Linked DNA regions of Homo sapiens: region 1 is linked to region 2. A link means that fine-mapping ties the variant in region 2 to the plasma level of a protein whose gene starts in the linked region. Region 2 holds a variant in brackets. A gene starts in the other region. All regions are shown on their forward strands.

Region 1 (8,279 bases), not on the chromosome of region 2:
ATTAGCAGTTAGGGCTGGGGTTGGGATCAGCATTAGGGGTTGGGACTGAGGTCAGAGTCAGGGGTATCAGGGGTGGGAGCTCACACGAAAGCCTGGAGGTGACAGTCCCCGTCAGCCTCCTGCAGTTCCACCTGGATGACCTTCCTCAGTAGCTTGTCTGAGAGTGGCTTTCGGTAGAGCTGAGTACAGCAGGCAGTGCTGGGTGGCAGTAGGAATGCTAGGGGCAACAGGGCCATGTGTTCAGAGGGATCCTGACCAAGAACCTCTCTGCCAGACAGCTGGAGGTTAGGTTGGATTTCCTGGGTCTTTTCAACTTCATCCCATTCACCCAGACCCCCAGCTTTCTATACCCCCAAGTACTCACCTGCTGTAGGGTCTGGGCTCAGGAGCAATGACAGCAGCAGGAGGCTGCAGAAGGTTGGGGGCCCCTTCATGTTGCTCAGCCTAGACTCTTCCTTCTCTCTCTCTCCTCCTCCCCTACCTTTTATCTGGGTGCCTTTTACCTGGGGCACTAGGTGAGTCAGAGGCAGTTGGAGATGTACTGTGTAACCTGTGACACTCCTGGGCCCTAATTCTCGGCCTGTTGCCACAGACTCCTTCCTCATCTAGGATAGCCATTTCCCATGTGCTCCTAAGCTCTGGGCAGTGAAGCTGGGGGAAGGATTAGTGTGTGATGTAGGGACTGATGGAACAGTGAGTAAGGGCAGTCAAGCATCCACAGCAGCATCTAATGATAGACATTCACACTCAAATACGCATAGCCACACATTCAAAGTCACTCCTCAATCACTTGGTCAACCTCACAAAGTCATACTCATGATCAGACAACCGTAGACAAAATTATATAGCCCCGGTTATACTCAAAGTCCCTCTCCCACCCAATTGTGTTTTCACAGTCATCCAATCACAAGCAAATTCACACTAGCACACACAGATTCTGACAGGGGAGTTGTGGGTGGGGTGGGAGCAGAGGGCAGGCAAGCACCAACTTGCCTTCACCTTCTCCTCCCCACTTCCTGGCTTGGCCTGCCTGTCTTATCAGAAGAAATGGATGGGAATGGGTCCCTAGAGCAGGCCCTTCTGGCTGAGGAGGGTTCTTGGCTGAGGCCAGCCCCATTCAGAGAAGCTGGGGGAAGGCCCTTTATGGTAATATTAAGGGTGTTTTGGAGATGCTGAGGTGGGGCAGCTTTCCCCAGGATGATGAGACAGGGAGGAAAGGTGGGGTAGATAAGGAGGGAAGATAAAAGCTCTTTGGTGCTAGGTTACTGTTGTCAAAACAGGTAAAAGGCCCAGTGAATCTTACCTTCCTGTTTTTGTCTAGTCCTGTTCCAGGAATGCCAACCTCTTGCCAGCAGGGGCCTAGGGTCTCCAGATCCAGTCCCTGACTTGTTGAAGACATTGGACTCAAGCACTCAATTACATCTTTGTTTTACTCAAATTCCAGCCTCCTTCCTGGGCCTGGAGGAACATCCCCTCTCCCTACCCGGGTTCAGTCACACCCTCATGTCCAACTGCTATACCCCCTGCATCCCACCCTCCAGCTATAGCCGCTTCTCTCCTAATCCCATACCCAGCTGTCACTCCGTTCTTTACCCCCTCCCTGCAATGCAAAGCTCCTATTCATCTTTATCCAGTCCTTTCCAGGAAGCTGGGAGCTGCCTAGGGTGGGGGTATGCTGCCAAGTTCAGTGCCCCTGGCTCCTTTAAGAATTTCCCACTCCTGGTCCAGGGATCTCAATCTGCAAGTCCTGCTCTATATTTGAAACATAAACCAAGTCATAACACAGTAATCCAGCCCTTATCTTGTTGCAGTCGTCTGCTGTAGGGTCAGCCACTCTCTATGGAGTAGGCTTTCTCTTGGGATAGGGCTTAGGCCTTTCTCTTGTGTCCCAAGGCTTGTTGGGTGTAGCCACTGAGGAAATCCCAAGGAAATCTCCCAGGTTCCTCGGGCTTGTCATAGACCTTCTTCATCACTTGGCTGTGCGCTACATACTTTCTGGTCTTCCCTGGGCTTGTCGGTCCAGAAGTCTTCGGAAGGCAGAAAACAAATGCTTTTGGGTGTGCACCCATCTCTCCCCTTTAAGACCAAGTCTTCTCCCCAGCCACAATCTGCTGTAGCTTTGGCCCCAGCCAGAAACTGGGCCATCTCTTTCTTTAACTTAATCTTGTGGTGCCCTTTCTGGTGCTGGGTCCAGTCCCTAACTGAAGGCAGGCCCACATAGCAGTCCCTGATTCTCACCACTTGAGGAGTTAGTGGGTCCCAGGCTGATTGGGTGACAGAAGGGGGCGGCAAAGAGCAGTGGCCCTTGGACTCTCCTAGGGAGGGAGCAAGAACTTCTAGGTAGGCTGATGCCAAGGATCTCTAAACTTGGGATCAGACTGGAGGAGCCAAAAGTTGGGGTATGAACTGTAGGAAAGGTCGCCAACCCAAGTCGCTCCTCTGTGGCAGGCAGCTTCTAGGAATCTCCCCCTCTTACCATTTACAGCCTGCATCCTACACCTCTGCTTAAAATGTTTTAGATATACTCCCAGCAGAGAAGATTCTTCAGACAGCTGGCAAAGTCCTCGCTCCGAGGAAGGGAGTAACAGGCAGGATTATTTAGTTCTCTTCATATAGGCGACTCACAGTATGGGTTTTTGGGGGTTGGGATTGGGGGAGACAGCCATTGATAGTAACAGGAGGCCTGACACTGATGAGGGGCTTTGACGTGGAAGGGCACCCTTCCAGGGAGGGACGCCCTGTCAGTACGGAACAGAGCCCGTGTGGGGAGGGGCGCTCGGCTCGAATGGCGACAGCGGCGGCAGAGTCAGGAGGTCAGTACGGTGGGCTTCGGTTTAAATCTTTAATGCACTGGCTGGCTGGGCAGCGGCGGTGGGGCTGCGGCGGGGGAAGCCACGACCCGAGCGCTGGGGAGTAGGACCCAGGCCGCTGGACAGACAGCTCATCAGGCCTCGCAGAGGCTCCAGCTTCTGCTCCCCGGGGTGCGCCGAGCTGTGGGGCGACCCGACACTGGCATGAGGCGGGGCGGGAGCTACCGGATTCCCCCCGATGGGTCCTCAGAGACTGAGTCCCGTCCATGCCCGGGGCGGGTCCGCGGTATCGCAGCCTCCTCACCTCCGCTCCCTCCGCCACATGCGAAGCCAGGGGAAAAAGTAGAAACAGCCCCAGTAGATCCTGCAGAGAGAGGGCAGAGCCGGGCGGGGCGGGGCGGGGCGGGGAGGAGCTGACCCTACAGACTCCGCCCCGCGGTGCCTCGCCGTCGAGGAAGGCTCCGCCCCGCCTCTAAAAGCGGCTCCCTTCGCGCCCACGCCCCTGGGAGGCTCGCCCTGCCCACCCCTCGCCCCCGCAGAACTCCACCCTCCCCCACCCCGGAGCCGCCTGGTTCCTCCTCCGCAGAACCCGCCTCCACTCACTCCTCCTCCGCCTCCAGCGCCACCTCGTATCTCCTCATTCCCGACATGTCCTGGGCTCCGAACGTCTCCTGGGGAGCGGCATGATTGAATCAGGGATTCCCTAGCCCCAGGTCCCCTTCTCCGTCATTCTCAGGACGAGGCTGCCCAGTTCTCAGGTAATCTGAGGCTGATGCCCCCGAGAAGCCTCAGTTGCCACCACGGGACAGGGTGGGCTTGGAGATTTGGGAGGCACTGGAAGTTAAGGGGTGAGGAGGCCGGTCATCTCCGGGGCCTGGGGCATTTAGGGGGCCAGGGCGAGAGGTTTGGCGGTCATGGGGCTGGGAGATTTGGGGCCCTGGGTGAGGATTTTCAGGGGCTGGGGTCACCTGGAGGGGGGGCTGAGAGGGGTCAGCGCAGCCTAAACTCCCGCCCTCCCTGGCTCCACCCCGGAAACGGACCGTTACTATTACGTCACAGGGATGCCGTTGCGCACTAGGTTTGCCTGTCCCCCGGAAGGGGTGGGGTGTTCATGTCTCCCAGAGGAGGCGGAGTCGAAACGTCATCTTACGGGGTGAGGCCAGGGGCGGGGTCGGTTGATTAAGATGCGGGCAAAGGACCCTCTTTTATAGGTGTCAGGTCAGGTTTTGGAGCTACACCTTGGGGGGCCGAGGCTTCCGCAGCAGGCAGCAAGAAAAGAGAGTTGGGACTAAGTCCAGTACTGTTTTCTTAATCCCCACGTCTCCTCTACCCCTCCCTGGGCTTCTGCCCTGCCGAGTGCCTCTCTTGCCTGCCTTCCTCCCCTTGTATGACCCTGGGCCGAGGAGGAATAGGTCCTCAGATAGAGTCCAGTCTAGAAAAGGCCAGGCTACGGAAATACCTAGTTGAGTGGCCTCGGCTAAGTCACTGAATGGCCGGAGGGTCATTGCCCTTCCTCTCTGGTCTGAGACCTATCTTCTTGTGATTTTTTTTTTTTTTTTTTGCTACATTCATTCAATCAACAAATATTTGCTGAATGACCACCTGTGTGTCAGGCACTGTGCTGGGCATGGGGATGTAGTAGTAAAGAAGACAGGTGGCCGGGCACGGTGGCTCACGCCTTTAATCCCAGCACTTTGGGAGGCCGAGGTGGGTGGATCACGAGTTCAGGAGTTCAAGACCAGCCTGGCCAAGATGGTGAAACCCCGTCTCTACTAAAAATACAAAAGTTAGCCGGGCGTGGTGGCAGGCGCCTGTAATCCCAGCTACTCGGGAGGCTGAGGCAGAGAATTGCTTGAAACTGGGAGGCGGAGGTTGCTGTGAGCTGAGATCGCACCACTGCACTCCAGCCTGGGTGACAGAGTGAGACTCCGTCTCAAACAAAACAAAACAAAACAACCAACAAACAAGACAGGCACCTTGTCTGCCCTCTGAGAGGTAGGGGTAGAGCTGGGAGGATCAAAAGAGAATAGTGAGATTCTTACTATAAATGGAGCAGGCTGGCTGGAAGAAGTAGAAGGTGTCAAGAAAGGGCAATCAACCCAGTGTGGGAGGTTGGAAATAGCTGCCCCAGAGCTCTGACATCCCAGTCAAGGCCCAGTACTGAGCTGTAGTCGGTTTGAGTAAGGGGAAAGACAGTTTTGGGGCTGGGCTGACTGTATAGGAGGGAGTGACCAGAAATAAGTGGGGTGAAAGTTTCCTCTGGTTGAAATGTGAGGAATGGATACCCCTCTTCTCTCCCTCATCCCACCCTCTTTCTCCCTCTCATTCTTGTCTTCCCTTGTCTGAGCCACATACAGAGAGCAGACAGAGAGATCCATGGGTGCTAGGTGGTTTTATTGGAAGCACTGCAGTCTGGGAGTTCAGAAGCTATGCTTTCACCACGTTCACCCTTTCACTCACATTCACACTCATGTTGACACTCCAGGCCTGGCTGGGTCAGGTCTGGTGCCGAGGAACTAGAGGCCTGGTCTTCCCTTCTGGTCCTTGGTTCCCCAGGCCAGGGCTGTCTCTGGCACTGTCATGGGCTAACTGCTGTGGCTCTTGCTCTGGGAAAGGAAGGAGAGGAAGGGCCATGGGCTGTAATCTTAGACAGGGCTCAGAGGGGGCAGACAGGACTGGGGAGGGCCAGGCTTTCCTTGGCAGAGGTCTTCCGCAGTCTCCAGTTTGTGCAATCCATCCAGGGCTGGTCTAGAGGCTGCCTTTCAGTGTGGTGAATCTGGAGTCAGAGAGAATGGAGCCATAGAACTCATCTTCCTGAAAGGCCCTGGTGTGAGGGGCAGATGCTGGGGACCAGATCTGGGAACCTGTTTTAGGGGCTTCCTTGTGGGAGGGATTGGGCAAGGAGAAGTGAAGGAAGTAACATGGTGAATGGAGACCTGGATGATGGAGGAAGTGATTGGGAGGGGAGGAGACTGGACATTCTCCACCCCGACTCATAGGACAAAGTGCCCTGCAGCCATCCCTGAAGAGGAGGTAGCAGAAGGCACCAAAAATGTTCCCAGGAATTGGGTGTTGATTTGCTAAGAGGCAGAGTCCCCAGAGTTGTTGGTATCTCCCAGAGCTAGGGAGTGAGTATTAGCTTTAGGGCTTAAGATGGGAAGGCCATAGCCCTGACTGGAACTTGGGATATCTGTGTCCAGAGCTTTAGTGTTGCTCTCTACTCCACCCACATGCACTGTTCTCTTCTTCCTCTGGGAAGTCCAGGCTAGAGAGACAGAGCCTATAAAGAGAAGAGCAGCCAGAGGCTCCAGGACCCATCCAGGCACTGATACATACAGGAACAGCTGGGGTACAGGCACATCTACATCACACAGGTGCACACAAAGGGCATAGGCATACCCACACCACACAGGCACACACATAGACTGCAAAGGAATACACACAATGCACAGGTATACCCATGTCACACAGGACGTAAAGTCATCACAAGGGCACACCCATTTGGCATATGTACAGTCTCAGGTGCATATCAGTCTCAGAACCTGGATGTTGATATTGTGAAAGGAGAATAAATCTCAGAACCCCCAAATCATTCAACCAAGGGGAAAGTCAAGCTGGGAATTGTGTCAGGCAAACCTGCCTCTTGTTTTATTCCTAAAAGAGATAGCTACAAAGAAAAAGCTACATACCTCCCTCACAATTTGTCCACAGGGAAATTCCTTATGGGCCTCAAGATCTTTACCTTAAAACAGTTGTGCTGAATTTCACCCTGGCAATGTAAACTGATAGCTTATCTTCACAGGTGCAGGACAATAGACAGAACTCAAAGTCATCCCTCTGCTCACCTGAGACAAATGTGTATCTGATTGCTGCTTCTGCCCTATTGTTTATGCAAAAATGCAGATCCACTGAGCCAGACTAAGGCATCAGTGTGACTATTCCTTTACTCCCCACTCCATGTAAATTGTGTATTCAGTGAAAGGCTGATCAAAGACCCCAAAAAATGCAGCCTTTTGTCTCTTATCTACCTATGACCTGGAAGCCCCCACTTCGAGTTGTCCCGCCTTTCCAGACTGAACCAGTGTACACCTTACACGTATTGATTGATGTCTCATGTCTCCCCAAAATGTATAAAACCAAGCTGTGCACCGACCACCTTTAGCATGTGTTGTCAGAACCTCCTGAGGCTGTATCATGTCATGAGTGTGTGCTCAACCTTGGCAAAATAAACTTTCTAAATTGATTGAGACCCATCTCAGATACTTTTGGATTCACAACATGAACTCAGCTTCCTTTACAGACCCCTGAGACCTGCACATTGATCCCTGCCATGCCCCTCCGTACCGTTTAACCCCTGCCCCATTTTACTCACTCATGGCAAGAAAACCAATATGCTGAGAAGAGGAGTGTTGCCACACACACAAGAGGCCATGGAGGATGAGCAGAGATGGACAAATGAGGAGAGTCCCTGGGAGCAGCAGGTGTGCATGGGTGTGCAGGAGTCCTTCTGCTTGTGTGGAGTCTGTGAGACTGTGTGTGAGGTTGGATGGGGAGAGCAAGCAGGAGAGGGATCATGATCATGAGGGCGAGGGAGTCCTTGGAAGACTGAGGGTCCATGAGTGTGTGTGGATCTGTAGGAGGCTGTGGCTGTCTCCTATTTATGGCCCCCTAAAACTTTCATTTTCTACGTTCAGAAACTTCCTTCCCTAATGGTGTGTAATAAAGAATTTGACTGCCTTTTGTCCCTGGCTCCTGAGAGGGAGACTAAACCTTTGGAATTTCCCAAGTAATAGGAGTGTCTTTATTACTCATGAGCCCCTTGGAACACACCTGGGTTTATGCTAAGAGATGAGATGGCTCAGGTTAGAGGTTGGTCACAGTAAAGACCAACCATGTGATTAGAGAGTTGAGACTTTGGGCCAGGCTGACCTCTGGGGAGGAAGGGGGCGCTGGAGATTGAATTCAGGTATGTGGCCAATAATTCAATTATGCTGATGTAAGGAAATCTCAAAAAAAACTCTGGACACCAAAGCTCATAAAACTTTCTGGTTGATGAACACATTGATGTCCCAGGAGGCTGATGCACCTTATGTCTCCACAAGGAGAAACCACTGAGAGAAGCTCTGCATTTGAGACCCTCCTAGACTTCATCCTGTGTGTCTTTTCATTTGGCTGTTTCTGATTTATACCCTTAATAAACTAATTAAACACAGCACTTTCCTGAGTTCTGTGAGTCACTCTAGCAAATTATCAAAACTGACGGGTTTTGGGAACTTCTCAGACTTGTAGCCAGTTGGCCAGAAATGTGGGTGGCTTGGAGACCCTACTTGTGGCTGGTATCTAAACTGGGGACAGTCTTGTTGGGGACCTTTCCCTTAAACCTGTGGAATCTGGTGCTAACTCTACGTGGCTAGTGTCAGAAGTGAATTGCAGTCCATGAGTTGGTAGCAGAATACTTTCCCACTGGAT
Region 2 (8,332 bases):
TCAACAGCTGTCAAAGCTGTTGTTCATAGGAACCCCCTTTTTTTCTTTTTAGCTTTGAATTGAGGCAACTTAACTATGATATATCCCAGTAAATCATAGAGTTTTGCTCTTTAAAATTCTATACCTGAGTCATTTAGCTTCTTGACTATGAGTTTCTTGTTTTCTGTATATTTGGCGTGTTGCGAGCCATCATCGCTTCAAGTATAATGTCTGTCATGATATCTTTTTCTTCTCCTTCTGTGACTTGCCTAACACATATATTAAATGTGTGGATTTTTCCTAGATGCCCTTGAGGCTCTGTTGATTAATAGGTTCAGTCTTTGTGTGTGTGTGTGTGTGTGTGTGTGTGTGTGTGTGTGTGTGTGTGTGTTTCTGTCTGTTGGTCTGTCTGTCTGTCCTGTGATTTGTGTAGCTCCTATTGAATTATTTTCTAGGTCACCTTTCCTACCGTAATGTCTAAAGTGATGATAAGGCCATCCAGTGAGTTCTTCATTAGAGATGTACCTTTTCTCAGTTCTTTAATTTTCATTTGGCTCTCCGGTTCTTTTCTTTTCTCTTGCTATTCTGCTTTTGTTTCTCTCATGGTCAGCTTTTGCTGACATTTTCCTGAAACACAGTTCTCAGAGGTGCATTTTAAATGTTCTCACCAATGTCATCAATTCTATAATTTCTGGGCCTGTTTGTGTTGAGTGATTTTTTCTCCCAGTTATGTATCACAGTGAAAGCTTCTTGTGTCTCTATTAAATTTTTAAATAGAAGTAACGCAATAGGAATGCCATATAACTGAGCAACTTGTATTTGTCCCTTGCCTCTAAGGGGGGTTGAGTTTTTTTTTTCTTGTGGAATGCAGTTAATTTACTTGGAGATCATTTGGATCCTTTTAGACTGGCTTGGAAGAAGGGTTGTTGGAGTTTTTCTGGAGTCACCTTGATTCTAGGAATAAGATGATCCCAATCCCAAAATACAGCTTTCTTTGGTCTCTACTGAATGCCCAAAATGTAGTGAGGTGTTTCTCCTCTGAGTGGTCAGAATTCAAATATCCCCCAGTGCTATGTGAGCTCTGGCATCTCCATTGAGCTTACTGTTCCCCTGCAGTTGTTCTTTCCCAAGTAGCTTTTCTTTGTTGTTCTTTCTTTATGAAAACTCTCCCTGTGCATACGCAGCTTTGTATTTAGCCAAAGCCTTGAGGAGACTTCTGTGTGTATTCCTGGAGCTCCTTTCTTCCACAAATCCCTTCTCATTCTTAGCCAGCCTAGAACACATCAGCTGCCTGAGGCATCGCAGACTCCAGTCTCTCTCCTCAGTTAAGCAAGACTGCTGTGGTCAGCTGGGCTCCATCTGCTTGTCCTTCAATCCAACACTGTGTCCAGGAAGGAAGACAGGTTAATGATGAAGTTGATCTCCTTTGATTCCCTTTCTCAGTTCTCTCAAGCCTACCATATCTGTTGTCCAACCTGTGAAAACTGTTTTCTCATGTATTTGATAGTCCTTCATGGCAGAAAGGCTGGCATAGCCAGACATGGGTTTCTGTCCATCTTCCTGAATGTGTAACTCTTCAGCATCTCTATACTTCCTGACTCTCAGCTGCCTTCCTCCTTTTGCCCCTCATGGGCTGGCAACACATAGCTTTTCAGACACCTTGTTCTCAGAACCCAATGTGTTTATACAGGTTAGAGGAGAAAGTGATCGGAAGATCTCGAAGTCAATATAGATATCCTTCACTTGTTACCCAAGACAAACATGGCAAACACAACCTTCACTCCAGGGCTTGGAGATTAGAATGACAGAATTCCCTGGTTGAACTATTTCACTGGTCTTTAGTGGGCATTGTGGAATGGTGCTATTTCTAAGCACATGGTCATATGTTCTTCTGAGCTTTCTATTCATGAGACCTCACCACCTCCAAGTATCCTCCTACTTCTATCAACTATGAGAAAAGAGAGCTGGCCTGACATTTCTCTCCTCTCAGACCCTGTGCCCAAAGCAAGAAGCCTGAGACATTCTGTCCAACATTCTGGGTCTGAGAGAAATTGGGTCATAAGAAGTTAGCTGGAAGCATGGCTCTTCCAGGAGAAATTTAAGTGGGTGGCTGTTTCTCTTGGGAGAAAACTCAAAGACATACCCATTTGGGTAGTATTCTGTGGTTCTCTGATGCCAGTGTGGTGTCATAGAGGACCAAGACTGACATGTCCTTCCTGTAACAGTGGTGGAGAATGAGCCTCGATAACTCTGTCCATCACCATGGTAGCAGTCCTGGACTGTGGGGCTTTGCTCCGTTGGTGCTGAAATTCAAAGAGGAGAAAACAAACTGAGTAATTTCCAGAACACAGAAGCATGAGAAAAAAAATCCATGATAGAAACAGGACATCATCTCTGAAAATGACGACCATGCTCTGTTCTACATTAGTAGGCAGATGGACATGCCAATAACAAAGCTCAAAGATTCATAGCATTCTGGAACTTCAATGAGTTTTTAGAAAGATTTTCTTTAAAACCTGGGCACCAAAGGACAGATCAGAGTGCCTATCAGTCAAAATTGCACTCATGTGCCTGTTCTTTGGCAAAGATCTCTTTTGGGTGTTCCTGAGAACAAGGCAGGAGACCAGAGTGCCATGCATCAGGCGGTGCAGGCTGTAGGTGGTGGTTGTCAGTGGGGGCAGACATGAAACCGTCACACATTTCTCCAGAGCACTGATCCTCCAAAGCCAAAGCCTTAAGTTTCTGGAAGATGGGGCAGGAAGTGGTCCTCCATCTAGGACTTCCAGGCAAAGACACATTGTCTCTCAGAGAGGGGTACTGGCCAAAATTTTATTCCCTTGGAGGGACGGCGGGAAATCTTGGGCCCAGGATCCTGCATTGCAACAAAGTAGACATCCACTACTCTTCTTCACAAACAGCAACACAGATACGTGTTCCATGAGAAGGAGGGGCAAGAACACTAAGAAATCCCTTCCATCAAAGCCTAGGTGTGCAGCACCTGCCTAAGATTAAGGTAGACAGGGAGATAGAGCATTTGCTGGCTATGTACTGTTACCTAGACCCAGGAGGATATGGAACTAAGTAAAGTCATATCAGGTTTCTCAAGGATGACAGACTCAAAAACCACATTCCTCTGAAACTGTAAAGCTGAAGTTTGCAATGAGTACTGTCTACTTGAAGAAATACCAGGAAAGGCTCATGATGAGCTTGGTAAATCATCACAAATTTGGCAGGATGTTAGAATATCCATTTTCACTAGGACACTGAAATAATCTATTGAATAACCAGGGGAGTGGTAAATCCAGTGCCCTAGAAGGTCTGCACGCTTCCTAAAGACACCACCCTGTCACGGGGTGCCAAAAATCTCAGCCCTGGTTCCCCCAGAGAAGGCGCTGAGGCTTCCTTCCCATTGGCTGACCCTGAGTCCACATTCAGATTCCCGTGCAGCATGGAAGGCTTCTGTATCACTAAGATTTTGCAACTCTTTTTATCCCAACGTCCAAGGGTGTGGTTGTCTGGCCAGAGACTTCTTACCTTGTTCAGAAACAGCCGTGGACGTCGCAAGGACACTTGATTCTGTCACTGGACATTGTGTCAGGTTGCAGTACTCCCATCTGACATTGGGATCCATGGTATAACACCAAGGACTAATCTCAGCATCTGGATTCCTGCAGTAGTTCCTGGTCAGGCCACTGCAAATTACAAAACAATACAGTTCACCAGAGATGGGAGAAGATACAAGGGCACCAGACATCCTCTACATTTTGTTGTAACAAAGTGGTAAAAAGTGACTTTGAAATATTCTCACTAAAGGTCCTGTAACAATCACAAATCGTCCTCAACTTCTAAACAACTGTGAACATTTCAAAGACAGATTATCATTCTTATTGTAACACATCCAAACTCGTCTATACTCCATAAGAAAACCGAGAGAAAACATCAATGTGTACAAGAAAGGATCAGAATACCCTCCTTCCACCTTCTGCCAAATATGTTACTTTGGATTAACTGAGAGATTTTGAAGTGAGTCTTGTAGATTGTTTTATGCACGTACAAATGTTTCTCTGTCTGGCTATCTGTATGTCTTTCTATAGGAGTACCCAATCTATTCAGTATCTGGTTTGCTGATTTGTTGTTTACCTAAGGAATTGATCCACATGATCTACATTCATGAATTTATTCACATACAGTTTTTCTTGATATCTTCTTGTCAGCTTTCAGACCTGGAGTATGGTATAGCAATGGCTCCTCTCCCCTGTTACTTCAAATGGTGATGGTTGTACTCCCTCCTTGGTCTGTCATCTGTTCAGCCAGACTGTGGTCAATCACATGAATCTTTTCAAAGAACCAACTTTCTGTTTCATGGATTTACTCCTTTGTTGGTCTATTTTCTTGTTCACTGAATGTCATTGGTTTGGACTATTTCCATCCATCCCCTTTCCTTGTGTCTTATTTGCTTTTCCTTGCCTAGATATTTAAGCTGTGGTCTTAGATCAACTGTCAAAATGTTTGTTCATAGGAACCCCCTTTTTTTCTTCTTAGCTTTGAAATCAGACAATTTAACTATGATG[T/C]ACCCCAGTAAATCAGAGTTTTGCTCTTTAAAAATCTATACCTGAGTCATTGAGCTTCATGACTATGAATTTCTCATTTTCTGTATGTTTGGAAATTTGTCAGCCGTCATGGCTTCAAGTATAACTTCTGTCACATTATCTTTTTCCTCTCTTTCTGTGACTTGCCTAACACATATATTAAATGTGTGGATGTTTTCCTAGATGTCCTTGAGGCTCTGTTGATTAATTGGTTCAGTCATTGTGTGTATGTGTATTTGTGTCTGTCTGTCTGTCTTGTGGTTTGTCTAGCTTTAATTGAATCATTTTCTCGTTCACCTTTTCCTACCATAATATCTAAACTGGTTATAAGGCCATCCAGTGAATTCCTCATTACAGATATAACTTTTCTCAGTTTTTAAATTTCCATTTGGCTCTTCAATTCTTTTCTTTTCTGATATTATGCATTCATTTCTCTCATGGTCAGCTTTTGCTGACATTTTCCTGAAACACAGTTCTCAGAGGTGCATTTTAAATGTTCTTGCCAATGCCATAATTTCTATTATTTCTGGGCCTATTTGTGTTGAGTGATTTTTCTCCCAGTTATGGATCACAGTGAAAACTTCTTTTGTGTCTAGTAAATTTTTAAATGCAAGTTGCACTCTGGGGATGTCATATAACTGAGAAACTTGTATTCGTTCCTTACCTCTAAGGAGGGTTGAGTTTACTTTTTTCTGGAAGGCAGTTAATTTACTTGGAAATCATTTGGATCCTTTTAGACTGGCTTGGAAGAAGGGTTGCTGGAGTGTTTCTGGAGTCACCTTATTTCTAGGAATCCGAAGATCCTACTCCCAAATTATGGCTTTCTTTGACCTCTACTGAATGCCCAAGATGTTCAGTGAGGTGTCTCTCCTCTGAGTGGTCAGAACTCAAATATCCCCCAGTGCTATGTGAGCTCTAGCATCTCCATTGAGCTCACTGTTCCCTTGCAGTTGTTCTTTCCCCAGTAGCTTTTCTTTATTGTTCTTTCTTTGTGAAAACTCTCCTTGTGCATACGCAGCTTTGTATTTAGCCAAAGCCTTGAGAAGACTTCGGTGTGTATTCTTGGAGCTCCTTTCCTCCACAAATCCCCTCTCATTCTTAGCCAGCCTAGAATACGTCAGATGCCTGAGGCATCACAAACTCCAGTCTCTCTCCTCAGTTAAGCAAGACTGCTGTGGTCAGCTGGGCTCCATCTGCTTGCCCTTCAAGGGTCTCAAGGAAGGATGCCAGGGACATGATAAGGTTGATCTCCTTTGATTCCCTTTCTGAATTTTCTCAGGCCTGTCATGTCTGTTGTCCAACCTATGAAAACACTTTTCCTATGTATTTGATAGTCCTTCATGGCAGAAACGCTGACGTGGTCTGAACTGGGTTTCTGTCCATCTTCCTGCATGTGTAACTCTTCAGAATCTTTATACTTCCTGACTCTCAGCTGCCTTCCTACTTTTGCCCCTCATGTGCTGGCAACACATAGCTCTTCAGATACCTTGTTCTCAGAACCCAGGTACAGGTTAGAGGAGAAAGTGATTGGAAGATCTGGATGTCAACATAGATATCCTTTATTTGTTGCCCAAGATGAACATGGCTAATACAACCTTCACTTCAGGACTTGGAGATTAGAATGACAGAAATCCCTGGTTGAACTATTGCATTGGTCTTTAGTGGGCATTGTGGAATGGTGCTATTTCTAAGCACGTGGCCATGTGTCCTGAGCTTTCTATTCATGAGAACTCACCACCTTCAAATATCCTCCTGCTTCTGTCAACTATGAGAAAAGAGAGCTGGCCTGACATTTCTCTCCTTTCAGACACTGTGCCTGAAGAAAGAAGCCTGAGACATTCTACCCAACATTCCAGATCTGAGATAAATTTGTCATAAGAAGTTAGTTGGAAGCATGGCCCTTCCAAGAGAAATGTAAGGGGGCTGCTGTCTGTCTTTGAAGAAAACTCAAGGTTGTACCCATTTGGATAATATTCTGTTGTCCTCTGATGCCAGTGTGGTGTCATAGAGGACCAAGACTGACATGTCCTTCCTGTGACAGTGGTAGAGAATGAGCCTCGATAACTCTGTCCATCACCATGGTAGCAATCCTGGACCCCGGGGCTTTGCTCCGTTGGTGCTGAAATTCAAAGAGGAGAAATCAAGCTGAGTAATTTCTAGAACACAGAAGCATCAGAAGAAATCTGTGACTGAAACAGGATCATTGTCTCTGAGAAAGACTACCATGCTCTGTTCTGTACTAGCAGGCAGATGGACATACCAATAATAAAACCCAAAGATTCATAGCATTCTAGAACTTTAACGAGTTCTTAGAAAGATTTCCTTTAAAACACAGGCACCAAAGGAAAGATCAGAGTGCCTATCAGTCAAAATTGCACTCATGTGCATGCTCTTTAATATAGACATCTTCTGGGTGTTCCTGAGAATAAGGCAGGAAACTAGACTGCTATGCATCAGGCTGTGCAGGTTGTAGGTGGTGATTGACTGTCAGTGGGGACAGACATGAAACCGTCACACATTTCCCTAGACTGCTGATCCTCCAAAGCCAAAGCCTTCAGCTTCTTGAAGATGGGGCAGGAAGCGGTCCTGCATCTAGGACTCGTAGGCAAAGACAAATTGTCTCTCAGAGAGGGCTACTGGCCAAAATTTTATTCCCTTGGAGGGATGGCTGGTATCTTTGGCCCAGGATTCTGCATTGCAACAAAGTAGATATCCACTACTCTTCTTCTCAGAGACCAACACAGATATATGTTCCATGAGAAGGAGGGGCAAGAACACTGAGAGATCCCTCCCATCAAAGCCTAGTTGTGCAGGACTGGCTTAAGATGGAGATAGGCCAGAACGATGGAGCATTTGTTGGCTATGTACTGCTACCTGGACCCAGAAGTATATGGAACTAAGAAAAGTCATATTAGGTTTCTCAAGGATGACAGACTCAAAAACCGCATTCCTCCGAAACCGCAAAGCCAAAGATGCAATGAACACTGACTACTTGAAGAAATACCATGAAAGGCTTATCATGAGCTTGGTAAATCTTCACAAATTTGGCAAAATGTTAGAATATTCTTCTGGCTAAGACACTAAAATGATCCTTTGAATAACCAGGGGAGTGGTAAGTCCAGTGCCCTAGAGGGTCTGCACCCTTCCTATAGATACCACCCTTTCACAGGGTACCAAACATCACAGCTCTGGTTCTCCCAGAGAAGGCGCTGAGTGTTCCTTCCCAGTGGCTGACCCTGAGTCCACATTCTACTTGGAATTGTGTGAGCATGGAAGGCTTCTATATCACTAAGATTTTGCAACTCTTTTCATCCCAACGTCCTAGGGTGTGGTTGTCTGGCCATAGACTTCCTACCTTCTTCAGAAGAAGCCTCTGTGCTTGGATCTGGGACCACCGTGAGAGTTGCAAGGACACTTGATTCTGTCACCAGGCATTGTGTCAGGTTGCAGTACTCCCACCTGACACTGGGATCCATGGTGTAACACCAAGGGCGAATCTCAGCATCTGGATTCCTGCAGTAGTTCCTGGTCAGGCCACTGCAAATTTCAAAACAACACAGGTCACCAGAGATGGGAGAAGATTCAAGGGCACTTAGCGCCCTCTACATTTTGCTGTAACAAAGTGTAAAAAGAGACTTTGAAATATTTTCACTAAAGGTCCCATAATATGCACAAATGGTCCTCAACTTCTAAACAACTGCGAACATCTCAAAGACAAATTATCATTCATATTGTAACACATCCAAAGTCATCTGTGCTCCATA

Alleles and levels. Alleles are on the strand shown, and positions count from the first base shown. The strength of an association depends on the size of the effect and on how common the allele is.
In carriers of allele T in region 2, the plasma level of the protein whose gene starts at base 458 in region 1 tends to be lower than with C alone (weak association).

Evidence for each region. PIP is the posterior inclusion probability: the model's chance that the variant is causal. The UK Biobank Pharma Proteomics Project read protein levels with antibody pairs (Olink). The fine-mapping took linkage between variants from a reference panel, not from the people measured, so its PIPs are less certain.
Region 1: CCL27 starts here. The variant in region 2 is fine-mapped to the plasma level of the CCL27 protein (UK Biobank, PIP 0.91).

Annotation. Positions count from the first base shown.
Region 1 is chr9:34,662,200-34,670,478 of GRCh38, forward strand. CCL27 (C-C motif chemokine ligand 27) reads right to left here and starts at 458. Exons shown (of 3, transcript NM_006664.4): 1 at 365-458; 2 at 85-217. The coding sequence starts at 434. LOC730098 reads right to left here and starts at 3,846. Exons shown (of 3, transcript NM_001320038.2): 1 at 3,414-3,846; 2 at 3,115-3,174; 3 at 1,964-2,991. The coding sequence starts at 3,460. The coding sequence ends at 2,835. LOC124902146 (a long non-coding RNA gene) reads right to left here and starts at 6,294. Exons shown (of 2, transcript XR_007061467.1): 1 at 6,041-6,294; 2 at 5,188-5,586. It also overlaps a transcript of PHF24 not described here. RefSeq lists a silencer at 3,171-3,420.
Region 2 is chr6:160,587,431-160,595,762 of GRCh38, forward strand. LPA (lipoprotein(a)) reads right to left here. Exons shown (of 39, transcript NM_005577.4): 21 at 7,924-8,105; 22 at 6,528-6,687; 23 at 3,514-3,671; 24 at 2,123-2,282. Among named protein-coding and RNA genes, the nearest start is that of LPA, 73 kb to the right of the region's middle. The variant T/C (reference allele first, on the strand shown) is at 4,551.